Regions from separate parts of the Homo sapiens genome. Here regions 1 and 3 are each linked to region 2. Evidence: fine-mapped expression QTL. A gene starts in region 2. Each other region holds a variant in brackets. All regions are shown on one strand. Distances are between the middles of the regions.

Region 1 (8,159 bases), 38 kb after region 2:
GGCTGGTTTCCAGGGAGCTTCCTCCCGGCAGGCTCCAAGGTGCCCTCCCTGCCCCCCACCTCCCAGGAGCCCCTGTGCAGGTCGCTGCCTCTTCAGGCTGGCCCTGGAGGTGCACCTGCAGCCGCTCCCCACGCCTCTGTGGGGCTGGCGTTACCCGGGAACCTGGGTAATCATCTCCACTGCTTCTAAGACAGGGCTGGGCGGGTGCTGGAGCCTGGGCTCTGCAGACCCCCAGACTTCACATCCACCGTCTCTTGGCCCATTTCAAGCACTCCCCTGCCTGTTTACCTAAGCCCAAAACCCCATCCTCTCACTGATTCTTTGCTGGGCCAAACTATAGCCTCAGGCCCCCAAACCTTCTCCCAGGCCCATCCTTGTACTTCCTTGTAAAACCCAGTTTCTGCCATTCCTGCTAAGACAGTTTGGCGAGAAGCCCCAACCTCCACCACCCCTCAGGCGATGTCTGGTCACCCTGGCCTGCCTTCAGCAAGAATCCTGCTGGGTCAGTTCAGCCAGAATCCCCCTGACCCCCATGCTTCTTCTTGGTAATTCCTGCCTCTGAGCCCACCCTGCTCCCTGGCTAGAAATCCACTTGCCCGTGCTGCATTCGAGTTGGGCCTGACCTCTCCCCACGGGTGGGTAGGTCTCCGCTGCATGGTCCCTGCGCCTATCGAGACGGCTCTGAGTCGAGTCGGCCTCACTGTGCTCTGGCAAGCACCTGTGAGCGGCGTCTCCTCCGGCAGGGCCTGTGCCTCTGCACCCACCCTGTCTGCACTGCTTGGCTGAGTCTCCCAGCCTGAGCCTTTCTCCTGGGGATCCCCCCCCCGCCCCTTTCCCCGCTGGCCCATCTGCTTCTCAGAGATGAGGGTGCTAAGTCTCCCAGGCCAGACAAGGGAGTCTCTGATTTGATTAAGTCCCCAGGGTAGGTGGGGGGCGAGCTGACCAGGCACGTAGGGTGGGTTCTCCAGCTCATTGTTGGGGCAGCCGTCCTCAGAGCCCCTGATGAAGTTGGAAGGCTCGTTCATGTCCTGCAAGAGAAGCGCTGCTGGTAGGTGACTCTGCCCAGAGTGAGGAGGGTGGGGTAGTCCCCAGAGGCCTTGGGGATGCTCAGGAGGGGGCCACACTTACAATCCACATGCCGTCGAAGGGCACCTGGTCATGGAACTCAGCCACCATGTCCTCCCACCAGGCCAGGGCTGTGGGGTTGGTGAAGTCGGGGAAGGCAGTGGACCCGGGCCATACCTGGACAACGAGAGGCTGCAGTGGGGAGACCCGGCCCCACCCAGGGCCTGCATGGAAGCCCCACTGAGCCTCAGCCTGAGCAGAGGGGCAGCCTCACTCTTAGTGGACGCCCACATTTGCAAATCTGAGAGACCTGCACCCTGGAGGTCAATGAGCAGCTCTTTCTCCACAAGGCACTGATGCGGGGCCAAGGGGCCTCAACCCTGGGAAAACGAGGGGTCACCCCCAACACGTCCACCCAGGGGCTGGGCTGCAGAACCAGAGAGCGTCAGGGAGAAGGGCAGCGGAGACGGCCCCGTGCAAGCCCTGCCAGGCAGCCTCACATCCGCACCAGACCCTCCCTAGCTGCTCCCTCAGCGGGGGCCCTGCCTGGAGGCCCCTGGGGGGCTGGGAGGACAAGGAGGACCCTAAGGCCTCACTGAGGGTCTGCAGGGCTTGTGCCTGGGCCAGGCCCAGCTGCCCATGAAGTCAAAGGCCTGCTGATGGAAGAACTCACGGGGCCATTCCTTGTAGGAGCCACCATCGTCACGGGCCACTGTGGCCCATTCCTCTCAGCTGTCCCACTGGGCGTGATGGCTCCTCAAATCCCACCGTCTTCCTGAGCAGCTGCCGGCTCCCCCTGGCTGGAGGCCTCTGCTTTCTAACCCCCGTCCCCTGGACCCTCGCCCTACCTTCCCAATCAGCGGCTGGCCGGTCTCGTTGGTGATGAAAACCCCCCTCCGCAGACCCTCGTCGTAGGGCCTGTAGCTCCCGGCAGGGCCCGAGCTGCTGATGGCAGGATCCTGGGAAGAGGGAAACCTGTCAAGGTGAGGGTGGCCCAGAGCCCTGGCGCCAGCCACGGGGAAAACTGAGACAGTGAGAGGATGAGGCTGGGGATGACATCATGCGTGTGTACAGCATGCCTGCCTGTGTACCTGCACATGCCTGCACACGCCTGCCTGGAGAGGAGCCAGGGCCGGGCGAGTCAGGACCAGCTGGCTGATGAGGGGCGCGCCGGAATGGAAGCTTTACCTTTACCTTTTCTTTAAACCTCTAGAGTTTCCCAAGTGTTCTACAGTAATCACTTTTCTTTTATAATTAAAAAAATGTGAGAAAGAAAAAAGTCTGTGTTTCCACTCCTGCTCTTAAGGGCTACTACTGTTTGCTGCCTGCAGAAGGCAGGGATGGAAACAGGCAGCATCAGCACAGCCCCACATCTCATCTGTGCTTCCTCTGCTGAAGTGGATCTTCCGGGCAGGAACTGTTGGATCTTTTCAGCTCGCCCTGCCTCCCACCTCCTCCTCTGGCCATCGTGCCGGACACCAGACTCGGGCTGGACCAGCCCCCAAACTGCATCCTTCTGGCTGTGGGACTGGCTCAGGGAAGGGCCTCTTTGTGCTGGGTGACTCAAGAGTCCTGCTTTGGGACTTTTCTATGGGAGCTGATGGGAAGAAGTCTCCGCTCTGTGGTGCCAGCATGAGGGCTGGAAGCTGCCCTCACTCACGCCGTCCTTTCCAGGGATTCAGAGCCGGCCAGAAGGAGAGGCACGGCCAGAAGGCACACGGAGCCTCCACAGTTCCAGCGATACCCATGCCCAGGCCCACCGGGCCCTCCACTTTCCAGGACCAGGTGACATCAGTTTATCATGCCCCTGGCCTTTTGCTTTAAGGCAGTTCAAGTAACCTACATCTGACAGAACCCTGAGTAGCACCCGGCCATTTCTGGGGACCCTCAAACCCGACCTCCCTGGACAGCTGGGGCCAAGCCTGCAAACTTCTTGATATTCCCTCGATATCACAAAGACCCTCAGAAAACATCCTCGGCGACCACACAGGCACGAGGATGACGCTGCACAGAGAAGGAGCCACTGGGCACCGGGCGGCCCCCTTCCCAAAGACCCACAGTGTGGGGGCACACACCACGATCATCATGTAGCGCCGGCCGCCCTGGTGCAGCTCCTGCACCATGGCCGGGAAGTCCCGGAAGCCATCCTTGTTGAACGTGAAGTCCCTCCGGGAGTCCATGTAGTCCAGGTCGTTCCACTGGACGTCCTGCAGCCACAACACGGGACCGTCTGCTGGGGCCTGAGGAGACGCGTCCCGGCCAGCCCCTTGCCTCCCCTGCCACCACCCCAACTCACCAGGGGGAAGTGGGCCCTGGTCATGTTCTCCACCACCTGGCGGGTGATAGCGGTGGAGGAGTAGCCCCAGCGGCACAGGTGGAAGCCCAGGCCCCAGTATGGCGGCATGAACGGGTATCCTGCAGGCCAACGCCGACTTCATGAGGGAGGGAGGAGGGAGCCTTGGGGCGGGGGCCGCGGCCAGG[G/A]AGCAGGCCCTACCCACAACGTCCAGGTACTGCTGCACCACGCTCTTGGGCTCTGGGCCCAGGAAGATGTAGACATCCAGGATCCCACCTGTCGACCTCCAGCTAAGGGCAGGGCTCGGCTGCAGGACCACATCTGGAAGGGAAGCAGCTCTGGGGTTGGGGGACAGATTCTTCACTTGGAGGGCTCTGCACCCCACAGATGGGCCAATCACAGGCGGAGAGTTGAGGCTCTCTCCCCACGAGGAGCTCAGAGTGGCCTGGGGAAGCCGTGCTAAGCCTGACTCAGGAGGAACCTGGCATGGGACGGAAAGATATGTGGTGCCAGCCCACCTCCAGGCAGGGCCCCAGAACCCTCCTTAGGAGCACAGAAGGCCAGAGTTGGGAGAGGCATCAGCCCATAGGACTCATTTCCCAGAAAACACAAGGCCCAGCACCGTGCCCAGGGCCCCTCATGCGGACCTCCAGTCTCCAGGGCAGGCAGCACGGAGGAGACCCCGGCCCGGGCGCTGGGCGGCGGGCAGCTTACCCATGGCATTGCTGTTTAGCAGGAACACCCCGTGTGCCGACCCGCCGTCCTCCAGCGCCAGGTAGAAAGGGTGAGACCCGTAGAGGTTCGCACCGGGCTGGGACATGCAGGAGACGGCGCTTCAGCACCTGCGCTCCCCAGCTCAGTGCCCCCGCCCGCCGCCCGCCGCTGTACCGTGGGCGCAAGGTCCCGGTTCCACAGGGTGATCCTGGTCCAGCTGGTGCTGAGCATCAGGGGACTGAGGTGCTCGGCGAGGCCTGTGATATACTGCGAGGGCAGCGAGGTGGACAGCTGAAGGAACTGGTCCGCAAAGAACAGGGGCGCCACCGTCGTGTTCAGCCTGCGGGACAGAGGCCAGCCAGGCTTGCTCACACCCAAGGGGCCACACGAGCCTGAGAGCACCCAGAGAGCACCCCCGGGCCCTGGTGCCCTGGGAGGGCGGAGTGGCCTGGCCAGCCCTGCAGCACACTGACCCTGGGACAGGCGGCCGTGCCGAGCCCTGCAGCCCTTGGCACCCTGGCACCAGCGTGATCAACTCTCAGGGCATATCAGAAGAGGCGCACCGCCTGGCTGGGCCCACACCACCCCTGAGGGGCCCCCAAGGGGCTGACCTCCAGGAACTGGCTGGTACCGGAACTGGCACACATGCCTGTCCCATGACCCCAAGCAAGGCTGGGCAGGGGCTGAACAGAACCTTTCCAGGCCTAGGAGCTTGTGGCCAAAGTCCTCCCAGATCCCAGCCCAGCCATGCCTGAGAAGGACCCCTGAGGTTTGCTGGGGGTCAAGTGCAAGGCAAACAGCACCTCCGAGAAATGAAAGCCGCAGATAAACCCGGTCCACAGGAAGACGCGTCCTCTGTTAACACAGCACAGCTAATTTCGCAGGACGGGCTCACACCGCACCCACCCTCCCCTGGGCAAGACTACGCTGAGTGCTTTCAAGACCGAGATCTGATAAGATGCCTGTTTGTTGTTTGTTTTTTGAGACGGGGTCTTCAGCAAGGCTGAAGTGCAGTGGCAAAATCATGGTTCACTGCAACCTCGAACCCCTGGGCTCAAGGGATCCTCTTGCCTCAGCCTCCTGAGTAGCTGGGACCACAGGCATGTGCCACAATTCCCAGCTAATTTTTTATTTTTATTTTTTAAGAGATGGGGTCTTGCTATGTTGCCCAGGATGGTCTTGAACTCCTGGGCTCAAGTGACCCTCTCGCCTTGGCCTCCCAAAGTGCTGGAATTGCAGACATGAACCACCATACCTAGCTTGATAAGATGCTTTGAGAAACTTCTCTTGGGTCTCTCTACTCAGAGGTCAGCTCAGAGAGGCCACCCCTGTCCCCTGCATCTGCACAGCTGGTTTCCAGAGTGGCCTCCCCACCCCCCACTCCTGCACAGCTGGCTTCCAGAGAGGCCACCCCTGCCCCCAACATCTGCACAGCTGGCTTCCAGAGAGGCCATCCCTGTCCCCTGCGTCTGCACAGCTGGCTTCTAGAGGGGACCTCCCTGCCCCGTGTCTGCACAGCTGGCTTCTAGCGTGCTCTCTGCATGACCACTCCCTGACGCTGTGTCTGCATGGACTTGCTTATGGCTTCCCCTCACTGTGTGTCTGTCCCCGGGAGCAGGATCCAAACCACCCGGCACGGAGGGTCAGTGCGTGGACACTGAGTAAATGAATGAGCAAAAAAAGAAAAACGCATTTCCGAAGGCAACTTCTCTTAAGATTAAGGCAAATCCAAGTGCTGTCGTTCCTGAGAGTTTTCCTGAGTTAAATGACAAGCAGGGGCTTGGTGAGTCCTGAACACGTGTTTACATGGGATTTAGACCTATGTGAGTAAAAGACCCAGGGAGCGCCCTGTGAGAAATGCCCGTCGCCCTCCCCGCCGTGTGAGAAACAAACATGTGTCGCCCTGCCCATCGTGTGAGAAACAAACGCGTGTGGCCCTCCCTGCCGTGTGAGAAATGCGCGTCGCCCTCCCCATCATGCTGGCACAGAGCCCAGAACTCACAGCACGCGGCCGTCCAGCTGCCGGCGCACGATCACCCCGAAGGGCTCCTCGGAGAACTCCACGCTGTAGAGTGGGGACGGTGCCCGGCTGTGGACATGCGGGGTCTCCAAGGGCACCTCGTAGCGCCTGTTAGCTGGATCTTTGATCTAGAAGAGATGGGGGTTTATTGATGTTCCCCACAGCCACCTTACTCTCCAGAGAACAACCCGCACGCCAAGGACAGGTCAGGTCCTGGTGCAGCCACACATGGATGTGGGACCATGGGCAGCACATTCAGCCTCTCTGAGCCTCGGCTCCCTCATCTGCAGAGCCAGGAGGAGGACGCCTCCCCCAGGATGGAGGTAAAATACAGAACACCTGATAACTCTGAATTTCAGATAAACAACAAGCAGCTTTTCTAGTATAAATACATCCCAAATTTTGCATCCTTACACAAAAAAACAAAGTCATGCCTGGGGTATCTGCAATTCGGGTTTACTGGGCATCCTGTTTTCATTCGCAACCTCTGGCAGCCCTACTCTACCTGACCCACCTTTTCATAAAGATGAATGAGCCCCGAGCCCTGCCTTCTGGAGTACCTGTCACCGTGGTGTCCCCACTGCTCCCCGAGGGGCGCTGCCATTGTCTGCTCACACCTCCGCTCCCAGCAAGGGCCCAGCACACAGTGGTGCAACATGCACCCCACCCTTGTGAGGTGCGTGGGTGTCGATGTCCACGCGCACCCTCTGCCCTGGCCGCCGCCCCCGCCCCTGCCCTGCCCACCGTGAAGTGGAGGCGGTTCTCAGTCTCCATCATCACGTCCAGCCGCAGGGTCAGGATGTCCTTGGGGAAGAAGGTGGGGGTGGTACGGGTCAGGGTGGCCGTGTAGCCCATTTCAGAGGAGCTCAGGTTCTCCAGCTTGTAGCTGGGGTAGCTGGGTGGGAAGAAGCACCAGGGCTGCCCCATCTGGGCTCCCTGCAGCCCCTGCTTTGCAGGGATGTAGCAACAGCCGCGGGCCTCGCACTGTTCCTGGGTGATGGCCTTGTCAGGGGCGCAATCGAAGCGGCTGTTGGGGGGGACGTCGCACTGTGTGGGCACTGCTCTGGGACGGCCGGGGTGTGCCTGGGCATCCCGGGGCCCTGGTCTGCTGGCTCCCTGCTGGTGAGCTGGGTGAGTCTCCTCCAGGACTGGGGAGGAGCCACTCAGCTCTCGGGGAACCAGCAGGAAATCATGGAGTAGGATGTGCCCCAGGAGTGCAGCGGTTGCCAAGGACACGAGGGCGCAGACGGCCAGGAGCCGGTGGGAGCAGGGCGGGTGCCTCACTCCCATGGTTGGAGATGGCCTGGACAGCTCCTACAGGCCTGCGGGAGAAGAAAGCGGGCTCAGCAGGGAGGCGGGAGGGGCGGCACTCACGGGGCTCTCAAAGCAGCTCTGAGACATCAACCGCGGCTGGCACTGCAGCACCCAGGCAGGTGGGGTAAGGTGGCCAGGGTGGGTGTTGCCCTGCTGTCTAGACTGGGGAGAGGGCCAGAAGGAAGGGCGAGAAAAGCTCCAGCAGGGGAGTGCAGAGCACTTGCACAGTCTGCTAAAATGTTACAAATCAAACACGCTTAGAATGTCCCCAGGAAGACCAGCAAGGCAGGTAGACACTTGAAACAGGCCAAACAGCTGTCGCCTGGGCCAGAGTGCTGTGGTGAGATCCTGGCTCACTGCAACCTCCACCTCCCAGACTCAAGCAATCCTCCCACTTCAGCCTCCTGAGTAGCTGGGACTGTAGGCACACACCACCGCACCCAGCTAATTTTCTGTATTTTTGTAGAGACGGGATTTTGCCATGTTACCCAGGCTGGTCTCGAACTCCTGAGCTCAAGTGATCCACCCCCCTTGGCCTTCCGAAGTGCTGGGATTTCAGGAGTGACCACGCCTGGCTGGGAGCCCCACTTCTGCATAAAGGTGCGGCTTGGTCCACTGGGTGTCAGCGGAAGTGATTCTGGCAACTCGTATGTCCTTAGGGGGACCCAGTACCTTTCCTTGCTCCCTTTCCTATTGACTGGTGCACGGACATACCACAGTGGGGAATCCTGGGCACCGCAGCTGAGGGTGACA
Region 2 (8,175 bases):
GTGTGTTCAGACACCTGGCATAAACAACATTTCCAGAAAAATGGTGTAAAATGTTAGATCATCTAGTCATAAAAATATGAAGGAAAACAAATCTAAGCAGTTTGTGGATTAGATTTTAACTTTGAACAAGGTGAGAGGCCTGGTAGCTCACACCTGTGATTCCAGCACTTTGAGAGGCTGAGGTAGGAGGATCGCTTGAGCTCCTGGGCTGGGGCCAGGATGTACGGTCCTCAGTAAGGCTTCTGAATAAAACTAACTTTAATTCTTTAAAAGCTTAACTGTTTTTCTTTAGTCAACAAGGTATTTTACATTCTTCTCCTACGTTAAGTCATTGAAATCTGTGTGTATTTTACGACAAAGCGCTACAGCACGGCCTGGCAAACAGTGTGAGGCACGAAATGATCCTTTGTAGAGTGAGGAAGGTATCAGAACTTACATTTTATTCAGCTTTATAAATATTTAATATTTTGGGTAACACCAGCATCCTTACAAGGAATGTTTATCAGAAGGTCAATTATCTGTCATGGATAAATTCTGGTGCCAGAATGAGATTCACTCTTGGAGAAGGCTGCATTTACTTGTTCACCCTTGAAATACTGCAATCCACCGACTTCTTGATAAAAGGATGCTCTGGTTTTCTGTTTATTTTTGAGATGGAGTCTCTGTCGCCCAGGCTGGAGTGCAGTGGCGCAATCTCGGTTCACTGCAACCTCCACCTCCGGGGTTCAGGAGATTCTCCTGCCTCAGCCTCCAGAGTAGCTGGGACTACAGACACCCGTCACCACGGCCAGCTAATTTTTGTATTTTTTTTTTAGTAGAGATGGGGTTTCACCATTTTGGCCAGGCTGTTCTCGAACTCCTACACTCATGATCCGTCTGCCTCGGCCTCCCAAAGTGCTGGGATTACAGGCGTGAGCCACCAGGCCTGGCCAGGATGCTCTGGTTTTAACTAAAATTAACCTTCATAAAAGGAGAGCTTTTCAAGCACTCCTAGAAAGAAGCTGTGGATTAAAGATGTGCCCAGCGATGCAAGCCAGATTTGTGACCATAAGAAAGGACAGGACCGGGCTCATGCCTGTAATCCCAGCATTTTAGGAGGCTGAAGCGGGCAGATCATGAGGTCAGGAGTTCAAGACCAGCCTGACCAACACGGGGAAACCCCATCTCTACTAAAAATACAAAAATTAGCCGGGCGTGGTGGTGCATGCCTGTAATCCTAGCTACTCAGGAGGGTGAGGAAGGGGAGTCGCTTGAACCGGGAGGCAGAGGTTGCAGTGAGCCAAGATTGCGCCACTGCACTCCAGCCTGGGGAACAGAGCGAGACTCTGTCACACACACACACACACACACACACACACACACACAAAATAGCGGGGCGCGGTGGCTCACGCCTGTAATCCTAGCACTTTGGGAAGCCGAGGTGGGCGGATCATGAGGTCAAGAGATCAAGACCATCCTGGCCAACATGGTGAAACCCGGTCTATACTAAAAATACAGAAAATTAGCTGGGCGTGGTGGCGCGTGTCTGTAGTCCCAGCTATTTGGGAGGCTGAGGCAGGAGAATGGCGTGAACCTGGGCGACAGAACTTGCAGTGAGCTGAGATCGCGACACTGCACTCCAGCCTGGGCGAACCGAGCAAGACTCCGTCAAAAAAAAAAAAAAAAAAAAAAAAAAAAAAGGACAGAGCTGGCGCTCGTGGAAATACAATTTTCCCAAAGTTAAAAACATGATTCTCAACAGCATGAACTGCCCTTCAAAGATGATGGAGCTGCTTCAAAAGGCGTTAGAGGAGCTGGGTACGAAGAAGCACTTAAAGTGTCAGATAAGAAAGCGGTTAGTGGCTGCGCGTGGACACCTGTGGTCCCAGGTGCTCTGGAGGCTGAGGCGGGAGGATCGCCTGTGCTCGGGAGGTGGAGGCTGCAGTGAACCGAGATCGCGCCATGGCACTCCAGCCTGGGCGACAGGGCCAGACTGTCTCAAAACAAACAAACGAACAAACAAAAAGCAGGTTAAGATGCACAACTGGTTAAAGTTCTGCTGGGCAATTAAAAAATGATCCCGTCTGGGTTATCTTTGCTGCAGGACACGCATTAGCAGCACCGTCTACTGACAAGTGGCCTTCATTAAGAGCAAATTGCAGGCTCAGCATGTATTTTATTTATAACAGCTGCTTGCCGGGCACAGTGGCTCATGCCTGTAATCCCAGCACTTTGGGAGGCCAAGGCAGGCGGATCACCTGAGGCCCCGCAGTTCAAGACCAGCCAGGACAACCCTAACCCCCGCCTCCCCCAACCCCGTCTCTACAAAAAAATTTAAAAAATTAGCCGGGCGTGGTGGCGCGCGCCTGAGGTCCCAGCTACTCCAGAGGCTGAGGCGGAGGCTACAATGAACCCTGATCCTACCACTGCACTCCAGCCTGGGCGACGGAGCGAGACCCTGTCTCCAACTCACCAGGCAAACGGTGAAGACACACCCAGGCGCGTCCCCTAAGAGGGACGCCGGCTTCAGGGGCCCTGGCCCTCCCCAGCGCAGACCCGCCGGAGCCCAGCGCCGCGCCGGGGCCCACCACCGGCGGCCGTGAGGGTTTCCACTCGAATCTCCCCGGCGAGCTGGGCGCCTCCACTACGGGTCTGCGACGCAGTCCACCCACTGCGGGCCCGAGAGAGGACCCGTGCTCGTCATTTTTATTCGAGGCGGGGCTATCTGGGGACCCCGCCCGGAGCGGAGGCCCCTCGCGGCCCCAGCCTGTTTCCAGGGAATTCAGGTCCACACGCCGCTCAAAGAACCTCAGCGCCCCAGTCCGCGAAATCCCGCGGCCGGTACGAAACACCGCCAACTTTAGAAGTACCACCCCCTCCATCCCTTTCGTAAGGAACTGGGTGCCCCGCCCTCAACGAGATCCCGCGGGAACTGCATATGGCGCGAGAGCAGAAACACCTTACTTTTCCCTGCGGCAAACGCCCAGTTCCCTTTCACGTGACGAAGAGTGCCCCGTCCCCCAGAGGCGTGGCCGCGTCGCGCGTACGCACGTACGCACGTACGCACGCACGTCTCTCGCTTTCGCATACTTAAGGCGTCTGTTCTCGGCAGCGGCACAGCGAGGTCGGCAGCGGCACAGCGAGGTCGGCAGCGGCACAGCGAGGTCGGCAGCGGCACAGCGAGGTCGGCAGCGGCAGCGAGGTCGGCAGCGGCACAGCGAGGTCGGCAGCGGCAGCGAGGTCGGCAGCGGCGCGCGCTGTGCTCTTCCGCGGACTCTGAATCATGGCGACCACGGCCACGATGGCGACCTCGGGCTCGGCGCGAAAGCGGCTGCTCAAAGAGGAAGACATGACTAAAGTGGAATTCGAGACCAGCGAGGAGGTGGATGTGACCCCCACGTTCGACACCATGGGCCTGCGGGAGGACCTGCTGCGGGGCATCTACGCTTACGGTGAGCGGGCGCGGGCCGCGGGGGCCAGCCGGGGGCGAGTCGGGGGCGAGCCGGGGGCTGAGGGCCAGACTGGTGACTCCCGGGCCGGCCCTGCGCTCCGGAGGTCGTGGTCAGGGTCGAGGCTCGGGGGCCAGTGACGTCCGACCCCCACCCCCACCCCCGTCCTCGCCCTCACGCCTGGCTGTGTCGGCGCTTTCGGTGTGTGTCCCCCGTGCAGAGCTCGGCGCTGGGTCTGTCGGGGGCTGCAGCCGCTTCGAGGCACCTCAGCGTCCTTCATTCAGCAGATAACTGATTTCTACCTATTAGCTTTTCTAGGTACTGGGGTTTTGGCGGTAAACCGGAAGGGTTTGCGCCTTTACGGGTTTTGAATTTCGTTTGGGGGGAAAGCATACTGTCAGGTTGCCCAGGCAACCTGAAGAACCTGAAGCGGGGTAATTGAATAGAGTGGGACTGGGAAGGAGGAGAGAATTAGTAAAGCAGAGAGGTAAGGGGGTTCGCAGGAGGGGGTGCCATTTGAGCAGAGTTCTGGATGAAGGAGACTGTTATGAGAAGAGGGAAGAGCAGTTGGGGCAGAAGGAACAGCTGGTGCCAGGGCCTTGCAGCCCTTAGCCAGCTGCATTCCAGGAACTGAAAGAAGTCCCCTGTGGTGGGATTTTGGAGAGCTAGTCGGGGCAGATCTAGCAAAGACGTGTAGGGTGACGAATAATTTGAATTTCATTTAGAAATCTAGTGGGAAGCCAGTGGAAGGTTTTAAGTAGCTATGTGACACGATCACATTTACAGTTTTAAAGATTCTTCTGGGTGTCTGTAGATTTGAGGTGAGGCGAGGCAAGGCAGGAGAGGAAACAAGAGAGTTGGGAGCTTTTGCTGCAGTTCAGGGAAGAGAGGATTGTGCTGCCTTGGAGATGGAGTACCAGGGAGCTGACAGCATTGGCTGATGGATTGAACGTGAGTGACAGAAGGAGGAGAGTTGGAGTGTTTTGAGTAACCGGTGGTTGATGCTGCAAACATTTGGCTAGGTAGGCAGCACTCCAGAGAGTCAGAATCAGGAGCTGTCTCTTGGTATGTTTGAAAGATGTGAGGAAGTTGAGGGAGAGCCTGGAGAAGAGGTTGGGTTGGGCACATAGATGGGAATGACCAGCATCTGGGATAAATGGCCTGTGTTTAATGCTTGGGACAGGGACATTTTTTATCCTGTAGTTCTCTTCCTTTTCTTTCTTCCTTTTCCTTCTGACAGTCCTGCTCTTGTCACCAAGGCTGGAGTGTAGTGGCATGATCTCAGCTTATTGCAACTTCCACTTCTGGGGCTCAAGCGATTCCTTTGCCTCAGCCTCCCGAGTAGCTGGGATTATAGGTGTGGGCCACCACGTCCTACTAATTTTTGTATTTTTAGTAGGGAGGGGATTTTGCCATGTTGCCCAGGCTGGTCTTGAACTCCTGACCTCAGTGATCCACCAGCCTCAGCCTCCCAAAGTGATGGCATTACAGGTGTGAGCCACCCCACCTGGCCGTATCCTGTAGTTCTTGATGCCACAACAGTTTGGACAAAGTGAAGCGAAGTTGCTGAGGATGCGTGGTGAAAAAGCATCTCAGGCAGCCTCACAGTGAGGCTGACAGCCCCACCTGGTTTCCTGGCACTCAGGCAGTCCCTGCCCTAAGACACTGTTGTTAGTTTCCCATCTATGTGCTTGCTCTTCATGAAGAGTTTAAATCATCTGCTATATTTGCATTTGTGTTAAGATGGGAAATTGTGCTACATTTTCTTTTGTTTCTTATTTTTCGCTATGCCCCAGAACTGAGCAGAGCTACATTTAAGAGACTACCAAAAAATAATTGAAATAGAGTTTTTGTACATAAAATTTTATTTACTTGAAAAACACGTGGTTCTTCTTCAAAATAGCCTCACCCTTTGGTGTAGTAGTTGCTTTGCAAGAGAGATGGTGTGATGGTGTTGTAGTTAGTGAGCTGCATCCAGACAGAACAACATAGGACACCCTGCAGCGTGACCCACGCAGGTTAAACAGAGTTGTAGACCTGTCAGCAACACACAGACTTAATGCTAGCTAGTAGGAGAGAACAATGGCTAGAGTGACTTTCCTGTTTTTTTGTTGTTTTTTTTTTTAATTTAAAAAGTAGTATAGGTTGTTTGTAATCCAGTCAAACCTAAGGGAGTAATTAGAGTAAAAAGTAAGTTTCTTTCCACCCCTCTACTGCAGTAACTGCCAGGAACATTTTGGCACTTACACTTCCAGATGCTGCACACCCAGATTTTTTTTTTTTTTTAAACAAAACTGTTGTCTATATTCTACAATTTGGTGGTTTTTTAAAAATAGAGATTGGTCTTTACAAATAATATCCCACGTTAGTGTAGAAATCACTCAGCCCAATTCATTGAGCCCCTGGGTTTTGAGAGCTTGCTATGTTGAACACTGGGTTAGGCTGGAGGACAGGTTCAAAAAACAAACCATGTCTGCCCCTGAGGAGCTCACAGTACAGGGTTTCTATGCTGTCATTGTGGTGAGGGCTAATTTTTTGTTTTTATTTGCAGGTTTTGAAAAACCATCAGCAATCCAGCAACGAGCAATCAAGCAGATCATCAAAGGGAGAGATGTCATCGCACAGTAAGTTGTCCTGGGGTGCGGCGCAGGGCTGGATGTAAATTTGGGCAGCGCAGTGCAGTTAGATGCTCTGGGATGACTGTTTCCCTCAGCTTGTACACGCTCAGTTCCAACACTTTCCCTGACTTTAGCCACAGGGTTTAATACTTTTTTAAATTTGTGTTCTCTACTGTGGAAAGCTTTCATTTTCTTTTTGAGATGGAGTCTCGCTCTGTTGCCCAGGCTGGAGTGCAGTGGTGCCATCTCGGCTCACTGCAACCTTTGCCTCTCAGTTTCAAGCTATTCTCCTGCCTCACCCTCCCAAGTAGCTGGGATTACAGGCATGCACCACCATGCCCGACTAATTTTCATATTTTTAGTAGAGACGGGGGTTTCACCATGTTGGTCAGGCTGGTCTCAAACTCCTGACCTCAGGTGATCCACCCTCCTTGGCCTCCTAAAGTGCTGGGATTTCAGGCATGAGTTACTGCGCCCGGCCAAGGCTTTCATTTTCTTAGCCAGCTTTGCTTAGTGGTTTGCTGGCATGTGGAATTGTATATAACACAATTTCGGAAAAACAGACTGTGCTTTTCCTCTGCTCTCACACCACCACAACAGTCATCAGCACAGAAGAAGACTTCTGTGAGCAGAGGTGTGGGGCTTTTCCAGCTGGGTGTCCTCCAGTTCAACTCACACCACCTGCCTGGAGATAGGCCATATCCTGCAGGTTGACGGCTCAGTCCCCATGACTACCCTCTTTTCAGACACCAGTTATAAGTTCGGATCTCTAGAACTTCTGACCAAGCAGCTTCAAGTTGGGTTCCCAGGATCCCCTCTTTAGGTTGGATTAATTTGCTGGAACAGCAGCTCAAAGAACTCAGGGAAACACATTTAGTGGTTTATTATAAAGGGTACTGCAGAGGATACAGATATGGGGGGAGGGGTGCAGCCTCCAAGGGGCGGGTGGTCACCTCCCGGAACCTCCTTGTGTTCCACTGTCTGTGTTCAGCCATCTAGAAGCTCTTCGAACCCAGTCCTCTTGGGTTTTTATGGAAAATTCCATGAGGTCAGCATTCTTTCCCCCATAAGGGAATAGGGCAGGAGCTTTTCTGGGATAATACCATAATGCTTTTTAAAAAAAAATTTGAAATTTAAATTTTTTACATTTTTCGAGACAGGGTCTTACTCTGTCTCCCAGACTGGAGTGCAGTCGTGTGATTACAGCTCATAGCAGCCTCAAGCGATCCTCCCACCTCACCCTCCCAAGTAGCTGGGACTACAGGCACACATCACCATGCCCAATTAATTTTTGTATTTTCTGTAGAGACAGGGTTTTGTTGTGTTGCCCAGGCTGCTCTCAAACTCCTGGCAATCTGTCTGCCTTGGCTTCCCAAAGCCTTGGGATTACAGGCGTGAGCCACTGTGCCCGGCCTAAACATTTTTTTTGTTAAGATATGGGGCCTCACTTCGTCACCCAGGCGGGAATGCAGTGGTGCAGTCATAGCTCACTGCAACCTCTAACTTCGAGGATTAAGGAATCGTCCCGCCTCAACCTCCCAAGTAGCTGGGACTGCCAGAATGTGCCACCGTTCCTGGTTAGTTTTTTGTTTTGTTTAGAAATGGGGTCTCTTGCTGTATTGCCCAGGCTGGTCTCGAATTCCTGGCTTCAATTAATGCTGCCTCTGCGTCCCAGAGTGTTGGGAATACAGGCCTGAGCCACCACGCCGTGACATGAGGGTCTTTATGACTCACAATCTGAAAGGCAGGGAAGATTAGAGCCCTGCTGTGGAGCAGGTGAAAGGAGAGCAGAAGGTCAGAGAGATTGTTTCCTGAGGCCTAACCCATCAATTTAATAAGACTGTAATAAGGGCTATGGGAGCTGTGAGCCAGGAACTATGGATGAAAACTTGTATATAGCCATATCTCCTAGCACCACAAATCCTCTTTTAATAGCTTTATTCCTCGTTTGCCTAATTTCAAAAAAGACTCATTTACACAAAAATTTCTTTGGAAGAGAGAGTTAGTCCAAAATCCTAGAAGGAAAAGAGTTGTATTTAGATAAAGGGGAGTCCTCCTTTTTCTGACACCTATGAAACACCTCTTGAAGTTAGAGAGTCTGTGGCTCCATTGCCCCCGTGCAGAAGCCA
Region 3 (8,175 bases), 75 kb after region 2:
ACTGCACTCCAGCCTGGGCGACAAAAGAGAAGCTCCACCTCAAAAAAAAAAAAAAAAAAAGTAATATTTTGGGCCAGGCACGGTGGCTCATGCCTGTAATCCCAGCACTTTGGGAGGCTGAGGTGGCTCATGCCTGTAATCCCAGCACTTTGGGAGGCTGAGGTGAGCATATCACTTGAGGTTAGGAGTTCAAGACCAGCCTGGCCAACACGGTTGAAACCCCATCTCTACTAAAAATATAAAAAATTAGCCAGGTGTGGTGGTAAGGACCTGTAATCCTAGCTACTCAGAAGTCTGAGGCAAGAGAATTACTGGAATCCGGGAGGCAGAGGCTGCAGTGAGCCAAGATCGTACCATAGCACTCCAGCCCGGGCAACAGAGCAAGACTCCACCTCAAAAAAACCAAGAGTAATATTTTGACCTCCTCTCATGAATCACGAATATCCTTAACGTTATCTAGAATGGTGAGTCTGTTCCAGAAGGTTTTCAACTTACTTTGCTCAGATCCATCAGAGTAATCACTATCTATGACAGCTATAGCTTTACAGACTGTATTACTGCAATAGTAAGACTTGAAAGTTGAAATTACTCCTCAACCCATGGGTTGCAGAATAAATGCTGTGTTACAGGTGTGGAAACAACATTCATCTTGCACAGCTCCAGCTCCATCAAAACTCTTGGGTGACCAGGTACATTTTCTTTCTTTCCTTTTTTCGGTTTTAGAGACAGGCTCTTGCTATGTTGCCCAGGCTGGTCTAGAACTCCTGGCCTCAAGCAATTCTCTCACCTTGCCCTCCCAAAGTGCTGAGATTACTTGAGCTAGCATGCCCACCAGGTGCATTCTCTTTTTTGAGACAGAGTCTCGCTCTGTTGCCCAGGCTGGAGTGCAGTGGCGCGATCTCGGCTCACTGCAACCTCCGCCTCCTGGGTTCAAGTGATTCTCCTGCCTCAGCACCTGCCGCCATGCCTGGATAACTTTTTGTATTTTTAGTAGAGACGGGGTTTCACCGTGTTAGCCAGGATGGTCTTGATCTCCTGACCTCGTGATCCGCCTGCCTGGGCCTTCCAAAGTGCTGGGATTACAGGCGTGAGCCACCGCGCCCGGCCGGAAGGTTTGATCTTCTGTCCATACCACCTGAACTTTCTCCAGACGCGCAATTAGGCTGCTTCCCTTTCTTTTGTGTGTTCATTAGAGCAGCACTTTAAATTTTCTTCAAAAACTTTTCCTTTGTGTTCACAACTTGGCTATCCCTTTGGTGCAAGAGGCCTAGCTTTTGGCTTATCTCAGCTTTTGACATGCCTTCCTCATGAAGCTTAATCATTTCTAACTTTTGATTTAAAGTGAGAGGCGGCCAGGAGCGTTGGCTCACACTTGTAATCCCGGCACTTTGGGAGGCCGAGGCAGGCAGATCATTTGACGTCAGGAGTTCGAGACCAACATGGTGAAACCCTGTCTCTACTAACATACAAAAATTAGCCGGGCACGGTGGCAGGCACCTGCAATCTCAGCCACTCGGGAGGCTGGGGCAGGAGAATCGCTTGAACCCGGGAGGTAGAGGTTGCAATGAGCCAAGATCGTGCCACTGCCCTCCAGCCTGGGGGACAGAGTGTCTCAAAAATAAATAAATAAAATAAAAATAAAGTGAGAGGCATGAGACTCTTCCTTTCACTTGAGCACTTAGTGGCCATTGTAGGCCTAATTTCAATACTGTTGAGTCTTGGAGAATAGGGAGGCCCAAGGAGAGGGACAGAAATGGAAGAACGCCAGCCGGCGAGCAGTCAGTACACACACGACATGTCTTGATTCAGTTTGCTGTCTTAAACAAGGGCAGTTCGTGGCTTTGCCAAAAACCAATTACAATAGTTAACATCAAAGGTCACTCATCACAGATCACCATAACGGACGATGACAATGAAAAAGTTTGAAATATTATGAGAACGACCAACATGTGGTGCAGAGGCAGGAAGTGAGCACGCACCGCTGGAGAGATGGTGCCGGTGGACTTGCTCCACACGGAGCTGCCGTCAACCTTCAATTTGTAAAAAATGCGATTCCTGTAATCCCAGCACTTTGGGAGGCTGAGGCGGGTGGATCATGAGGTCAGGAGATCGAGATCATCCTGGCTAACACAGTGAAACCCCGTCTCTACTAAAAAATACAAAAAATTAGCAGGGCATGGTGGCATGTGCCTGTAATCCCAGCTACTCTGGAGGCTGAAGCAGGAGAATTGCTTGAACCCGGGAGGTGGAGGTTGCAGTGAGCCAAGATCGCCCCACTGCACTCCAGCCTGGGTGACAGAGTGAAACTCATCTCAAAAACAAACAAACAAACAAACAAACAAACAAACAAAAGCGATTCCACGCAGTAGGAGAAAGCGAGGCACACTGAAACGAGATGCGCCTGTATTTACCCGGGAGAAACGGAAACACGTCTCCATGCAAAGATCTTTTCAGGACAGCCACAGCAGCTTTCTTCACGGTATTCCAAAGGTAAAAGCCAAATGTCCATCAGTTGGTGGATGGACAAATACATCTGATGTATCCGTGCAAGGGAATACTATTCAACAATAAAAAGGAACAGACTACTGATCTTGCAACATGGGTGGGTCTCAAAAGCATGATGCCAAGTGGAAGAAGCCAGACAAGAAAAGCTACAGACTGCGCGATTCCATTTATATGACATTCTAGAAATGGCAGAGCTATAGGCACAGAAGGCGGCACAGCGGTTGCCAGGGCTGGAGGTATGCAATTTTGTACATAAATTATCCCCAGTCATCCTGACTTCAAGTAAATAAGTTACTCATTTTCTTTTTTTAGGAAGGAGCAGCCTTATAAATGTCTAAATTTGACAATAAAAATAAGATGCCCAATTTAAAAAGATACAGTTACAAACTGTGCAACAGAACTCCTAACACTCGGGGAAATGTGTGCCTGAGAGTGTGCTGACATGCTAATGAGTCTTCTTGTCACAAAAAGAGAAAGTCGATGGTATTTTTAAATCCTTTTCTCTGTTTTTCAAATGTCCTGTAACGCAATCACTTATCCTTGATAAGGATTATTATTTTTTTAAATCGTACTTTAAAAACTCCGTAGATCAGCAGGCACCAATAGAAAGTACAGGTTCTCCTCAGCTTACGGTGGGGATGCAGCCCGGCAAACCCATCGTAAGTTGAAAATATCCTAAGTCCAAAATGCAGGCTGGTGCCGTGGCTCACGCCTGTAATTCCCAGCACTTTCAGAGGCCAAGTGGGGGCAGATCACCTGAGGCCAGGAGTTCAAGACCAGCCTGGCCAACATGGTGAAACCCCGTCTCTTTTAAAAATACAAAATCAGCCGGGCATGGTGGTGGTGCATGTCTGTAATCCCAGCTACCTGAGAGGCTGAGGCAGGAGAATCACTTGAACCCAGGAGGTGGAGGTTGCAGTGAGCTGAGATCGCACCATTGCACTCCAGCCTGGGCGACAAGAGTGAAACTTCATCTCAAAAAAAAAAAAAAAAAAAAAAGCTGAAAAACCCAAAATGCACTTCCTGCAGATTTCCTGCCAGGCACCCCGGCTCAGCCCAGCCTCCCTCAAACGTGCTCAGGACACTCCCATGAGCCTACAGGTGGGCAAAATCATCTCACACGAAGCCTGTTTGATAATAAAGTGTGGGGCATCCATGTAATTTATTGAATACCGTGCTGAAAACCAGGGAGGTTGTGTGGGACTCAAAGCCCAGTTTCTGTTGCCTGCCTGTTGCTTTAATACCATGGTAAAGTCCAAAAATCGTGACGTCGGGGACTGTCTGTAAATGAAACAAAAAGAACGGATGGAATCTGGAATATGGCCCAGGCATTGGGCACCGTGCCTCTGAGGATTAAGGGGGGGACACAGGAGGTGTCCAGCAGCCTGTGGTCAAGGCCGGGTTCTCTCCCAGGACACTGCCCGTGGCTTTTGTCCTTGGGTCGGCCTGCCTGGCTGCCGTGGCCACAGCTGAGGGCCTGGGAGGAGGCTGTGAGGCCGTGTGGCTGACCGAGTCACATCTTGGGGTAAAGGGGCTGTGGCTGCGGGCCAAGACCTGTCTGCCCTCTGTATTTCCCGCCAGGAAATAGGACAAAGGCAGGTAAGAGCACGGGTGCTTTTGGCTCCAAGTCCCAGGCGTGTGTGAATTCTGATTAGGTTATCTGCCTCCAAGTTAAGTGCGGTCCAGGCTTTGTTTTCTGAAAGTGAAAGTGACCCATTTCCCTGCGTATGTGATGGGAAGGGGCTGACCGTGGGCTCCTCGTGGTTATTCACCTAGCTTTGGGACCCACGTTGGATTGCCTGGACCGCTGCGGTCTTTGAAGGGTTGGTGTGGCAGGCCCGGTCTGGTCTTGAGGGTCACACACGGTTCCTTCAGGACTTCTGGCTGCTGGGGAGGGCAGTGTCCAGCTCCCACAGGCAGGCCCAGATGGACAGGGGGTGTGCCCACAGCCACGGTCATTCCC[T/C]GGTGGGAAGAAGGGACAGGACACCATGAGCTACCACAGCAGTCCTGACAGGCCTCACCCATGCCCCTGTGTCTGGGGACACTTTTTTATTTTTTTGAGACAGGCTCTGGCTCTGTTGCCCAGGCTGGAGTGCAGTGGCACCATCTCGGCTCACTGCAGCCTCGACCTCCTGGGCTCAAGCAATCCTCCCACCCAGCCTCCCGAGTAGGTGGGACTACAGGTCTACAGGTGCACACCACCATGCCCCGCTAATTAAAAATTTTTTGAGAGACAGGGTCTTGCTCTGTTGCCCAGGCTGGAGTGCATTCGTGCAATCACAGTTCACTGCAGCCTCAAATTCCTGGACTCAAGTGATCATCCTGCTTCTGCCTCCCAAGTAGATGAGACCACAGGCACACACCACCACACCTGGCTATTTTTTATATTTTATTTTAGAGACAAGGTCTTACTTTACTATGTTGCCCGGGCTGGTCTTGAACTCCTGGGCTTAAGGGATCCTCTTGCCTCAGTCTCCCAAAGCACTGTGATTACAGGCAGGAGCCACTATGCCCGCCCATGGGGGCACATTTTTAATGGGGTTGTTACTCTGTCTTTGGTCTGTGGCCTCAGGTCTGCTGGGTCACCAGTGTCCTTGGGTATATGGGGCATTGGTGGTGACTGGGACCCACCTGCCAGATCCCCAGGCTAGAAGGAGGCCTGCTGGGGACACTGTGGCAATGCCCACACCCAACCCATCCCACACTGCCTTCCGCTCCTTCCTCCTCCATCAACTGGGGGCAAGGACAGTGTCCCCTTTGAGGGGCTACACCAGACCGAGCTGAGCCTGGGGCTTGTTACCCAGGAAACAGTGAAATCACCCGCTCGTTGCCTAGCTCTAATTCTGCGTTCAGTGTCTTGCTCCATCCTGTCCTCCCTCCCTAGGGCAGGCTCCAGCACTCCATGCCAAGGGGAAGAGCCTTTGAGGAGTCGTCTCTGCCATCATCAGGACTGAGGGAAAAGGAAGTCTAGGAGATTAGGGCAAGCCCTCAGTTTTCTTTTCTTTTCTTTCTTTCTTTTTTTCTCTCTCTCTCTCTGTCTCTCTCTCTCTCTTTTTTTTCTTTTTCTTTCTTATTTTTTTGAGACGAAGTCTCGCTCTGTCACCCAGGCTGGAGTGCAGTGGCACCATCTTGCTTCACCGCCACCTCCACCTCCCGGGTTCAGGCGATTCTCCTGCCTCAGCCTCCTGAGTAGCTGGGACCACAGGTGCCCGCCACCAGGTCTGGCTGTTTTTTTGTATTTTTAGTAGAGACGGGGTTTCACCATGTTAGCCAAGATGGTTTCAATCTCCAGCTCCTGAGCTCGTGATCTGCCCGCCTCGGCCTCCCAAAGAGCTGGGATTACAGGCGTGAGCCACCGCGCCTGACCCCTTCAGCTTCCTCAGGTCGACTTAAACAGGAAACAGAATAACACGTTTCATGTTTCTCCTGAACTTTTATGACCGTGTGCAAAACTCCTGCAAAAATAGGGAAGACAGCAAGAAAAAGCAGCCAAGACAGGCACAGCTTCTGAGCTAAGCTTGCAGCTTGTGTATGAGACACGGGGGCAAGATTATGGTTACCGCCCCCCCCACGCAGCAGCAACCCCCTGACCAAGGACGGGGAAGTCAGTCTGTCTTCAAAGCATTAGGTTGTAGACTCGACATCAGACGAAGAGAGACACAAAGGCATGGGGAAAGAGAAAGGGTGAGGTTTGGCTGGAACCTAATCAAAGGTATTAACTTATCTGAAAAAATGCCATGGGTGTCAGGAGGGAGGAGGGGTGGGGAATGGAATGGAGAAAGCAGCCAAGGTCAGGGTGAGGGCTGCTCGCGGGACACCTCCCGCCCATGTGGACGGACAGGCCATGAACTTCGGGGAAGAAGCAGGAAGCAGACAGGGCCGGGGCCCAGGCATTCCGCCCTCTAGCCGGTCCCTGAGCAGGGGTCTGTGTCATCCGCTCCTGTGTCCTCCCCCACAGATAAGAATCTGCTAGTCCGAGCGTGGAGCATTCGGTTCTTTGGTGTTTATATTTCATCATGCACATAAATGGGCTATTATACTCAGTTACACGTCAGGCTCTGGTGAGCTCGATTCATGTAAACTAACTCCAGGACAAGTGTGCCTTCTCGGTGTGATGGCAAAACCAAGCTTCTGGGCCAGGGGGTCCTGCCCCATGGGGATCTCGCAGGGTGAAGGCTCCAGAAATGCCCAGACAGCCACCAGGGTACCGGCCTGGTATGCACCATCCTGACCATCAGCCAGGAATGTCACCATTTTCTAAGATGCTCTACAAATCTGAACATCTCAAGGTCAATATTTGAGGTATAGTTCAGTCACTGCACTCCTAGCTTGGAAGTCCTAAGCTATGCAATAATTTATTTCTGTAATAATGGCCCTGATCTATTAAACCTGTCTCCAAGTTGCTTCTTCAAATCTATCTGGGTGCAAACAGCAAATCTCTGTAATTACAGTTTATACTTCTCACAATGTTCTACACGGCCTGCACTTTTAAAAGACTGGCCGGGCGCAGTGGCTCCCGCCTGTAATCCCAGCACTTTGGGAGGCCAAGACGGGTGGATCACCTGAGGTAGGGGTTCAAGATCAGCCTGGCCCACATGGTGAAACCCCGTCTCTACTAAAAATACAAAAATTAGCCAGGCGTGGTGGTGCACGCCTGTAATCCCAGCTACTTGGGAGGCTGAGGCAGGAGAATCGCTTGAACCCAGGAGGCGGAGGTCGCAGTGAGCAGAGATGGTGCCACTGCACTCCAGCCTGGGGGACAGAGCGAGACTCCATTGCAAGAACCACAAAAATATAATAAATAAAAGTTGGGCCTCACTCCTCCCCGGGGCCTTGGTGTGGCAAGCTGCAGGTGAAGTCAGAGGCTCTCTCACTCGTTGTGAAGTGTTTGTGCGTGTACATAGTCCACTAAAATATTCACTCAACATTCTGCGCATGCACGTTTTATAAAACAAGATTATCTATTTTCTTCATCAATCGGATTGGCACAGTCCTGAAGTGTGACAACATGCTGAGCTGTCAGGGGACTTTGAAACACCGCTGCCGGGGGCGTGACTGTCACAATCCTACTTAGCAATACCCGCTAGACCCAGACATTCCGGGCTTGATAGGCAATATAAAAAAGGCTATATAGCATCCTGGTGAGCGTTAGCATTCGCGGATCCGGTTATCTACAGCAGCACCGCCATAACAGACGGACGCGAACGCCCTCGATGCCCCGGGCAGGAAGCTTCCCCGTAGAAGTATCCCAGCGGAATGCCATGTGGTAGAAAGGCGGGAACGAGCGGTGTTTATATTTTGACTTGGGAAGCGCTCTAGGGACACGCTGTTAAATGGAAAAAGCAAAGAGGTGCAGAACAGTGAGTGTGGTGTGCTCCCACGGAGCAAGAGAGGGAAGGAAGACTCCGGGTGAACGCATATGCTTTCTTGCAATTGCACACAAGTTAGGCAGGGGATCCCAGAAAACCAGGTGCCTTTGCTTGTCTTGGGAGGGGGTTCTAGTGACTGCGGGCCGAGGAGGAGGAGACCTGATCGAATACGATTTTTACAATGTTTGCAACCAAAAGGAAGCCATGTCTCTGAGGGCAATGAGGACGGTTTGCAGAGAGGACACTGGTTAGTCTGGGATGCAGGGGAGAGCTGGACAACAGGACCATCTCGGAGGTGACG

Which allele goes with the higher level. Alleles are on the strand shown, and positions count from the first base shown. SD is a standard deviation of normalised expression in the study named. Not every link is listed here.
With allele C in place of T in region 3, the expression in tibial artery of the gene that starts at base 3,096 in region 2 is lower (moderate effect, 0.75 SD a copy in GTEx).

The links.
Region 1: its variant is fine-mapped to the expression of EIF4A3 in whole blood (INTERVAL, PIP 0.93).
Region 3: its variant is fine-mapped to the expression of EIF4A3 in tibial artery (GTEx, PIP above 0.99).

The regions. Positions count from the first base shown.
Region 1 is chr17:80,103,810-80,111,968 of GRCh38, reverse strand. It overlaps GAA (alpha glucosidase), which reads right to left. Exons shown (of 20, transcript NM_000152.5): 2 at 6,837-7,414; 3 at 6,075-6,220; 4 at 4,247-4,412; 5 at 4,073-4,169; 6 at 3,560-3,679; 7 at 3,362-3,480; 8 at 3,141-3,272; 9 at 1,914-2,024; 10 at 1,129-1,242; 11 at 944-1,028. The coding sequence starts at 7,382. Among named protein-coding and RNA genes, the nearest start is that of GAA, 6.3 kb to the right of the region's middle. RefSeq lists an enhancer at 1,183-2,158. The variant G/A (reference allele first, on the strand shown) is at 3,547.
Region 2 is chr17:80,142,049-80,150,223 of GRCh38, reverse strand. EIF4A3 (eukaryotic translation initiation factor 4A3) reads left to right here and starts at 3,096. Exons shown (of 12, transcript NM_014740.4): 1 at 3,096-3,431; 2 at 5,980-6,052. The coding sequence starts at 3,263. RefSeq lists enhancers at 1,015-1,727, 1,728-2,441, 2,442-3,154, 3,155-3,869 and silencers at 2,438-2,627, 3,468-3,517.
Region 3 is chr17:80,067,161-80,075,335 of GRCh38, reverse strand. The region is part of intron 10 of CCDC40 (coiled-coil domain 40 molecular ruler complex subunit); the gene reads right to left. LOC124904074 (a long non-coding RNA gene) reads left to right here and starts at 3,800. Exons shown (of 2, transcript XR_007065931.1): 1 at 3,800-4,104. The variant T/C (reference allele first, on the strand shown) is at 4,469.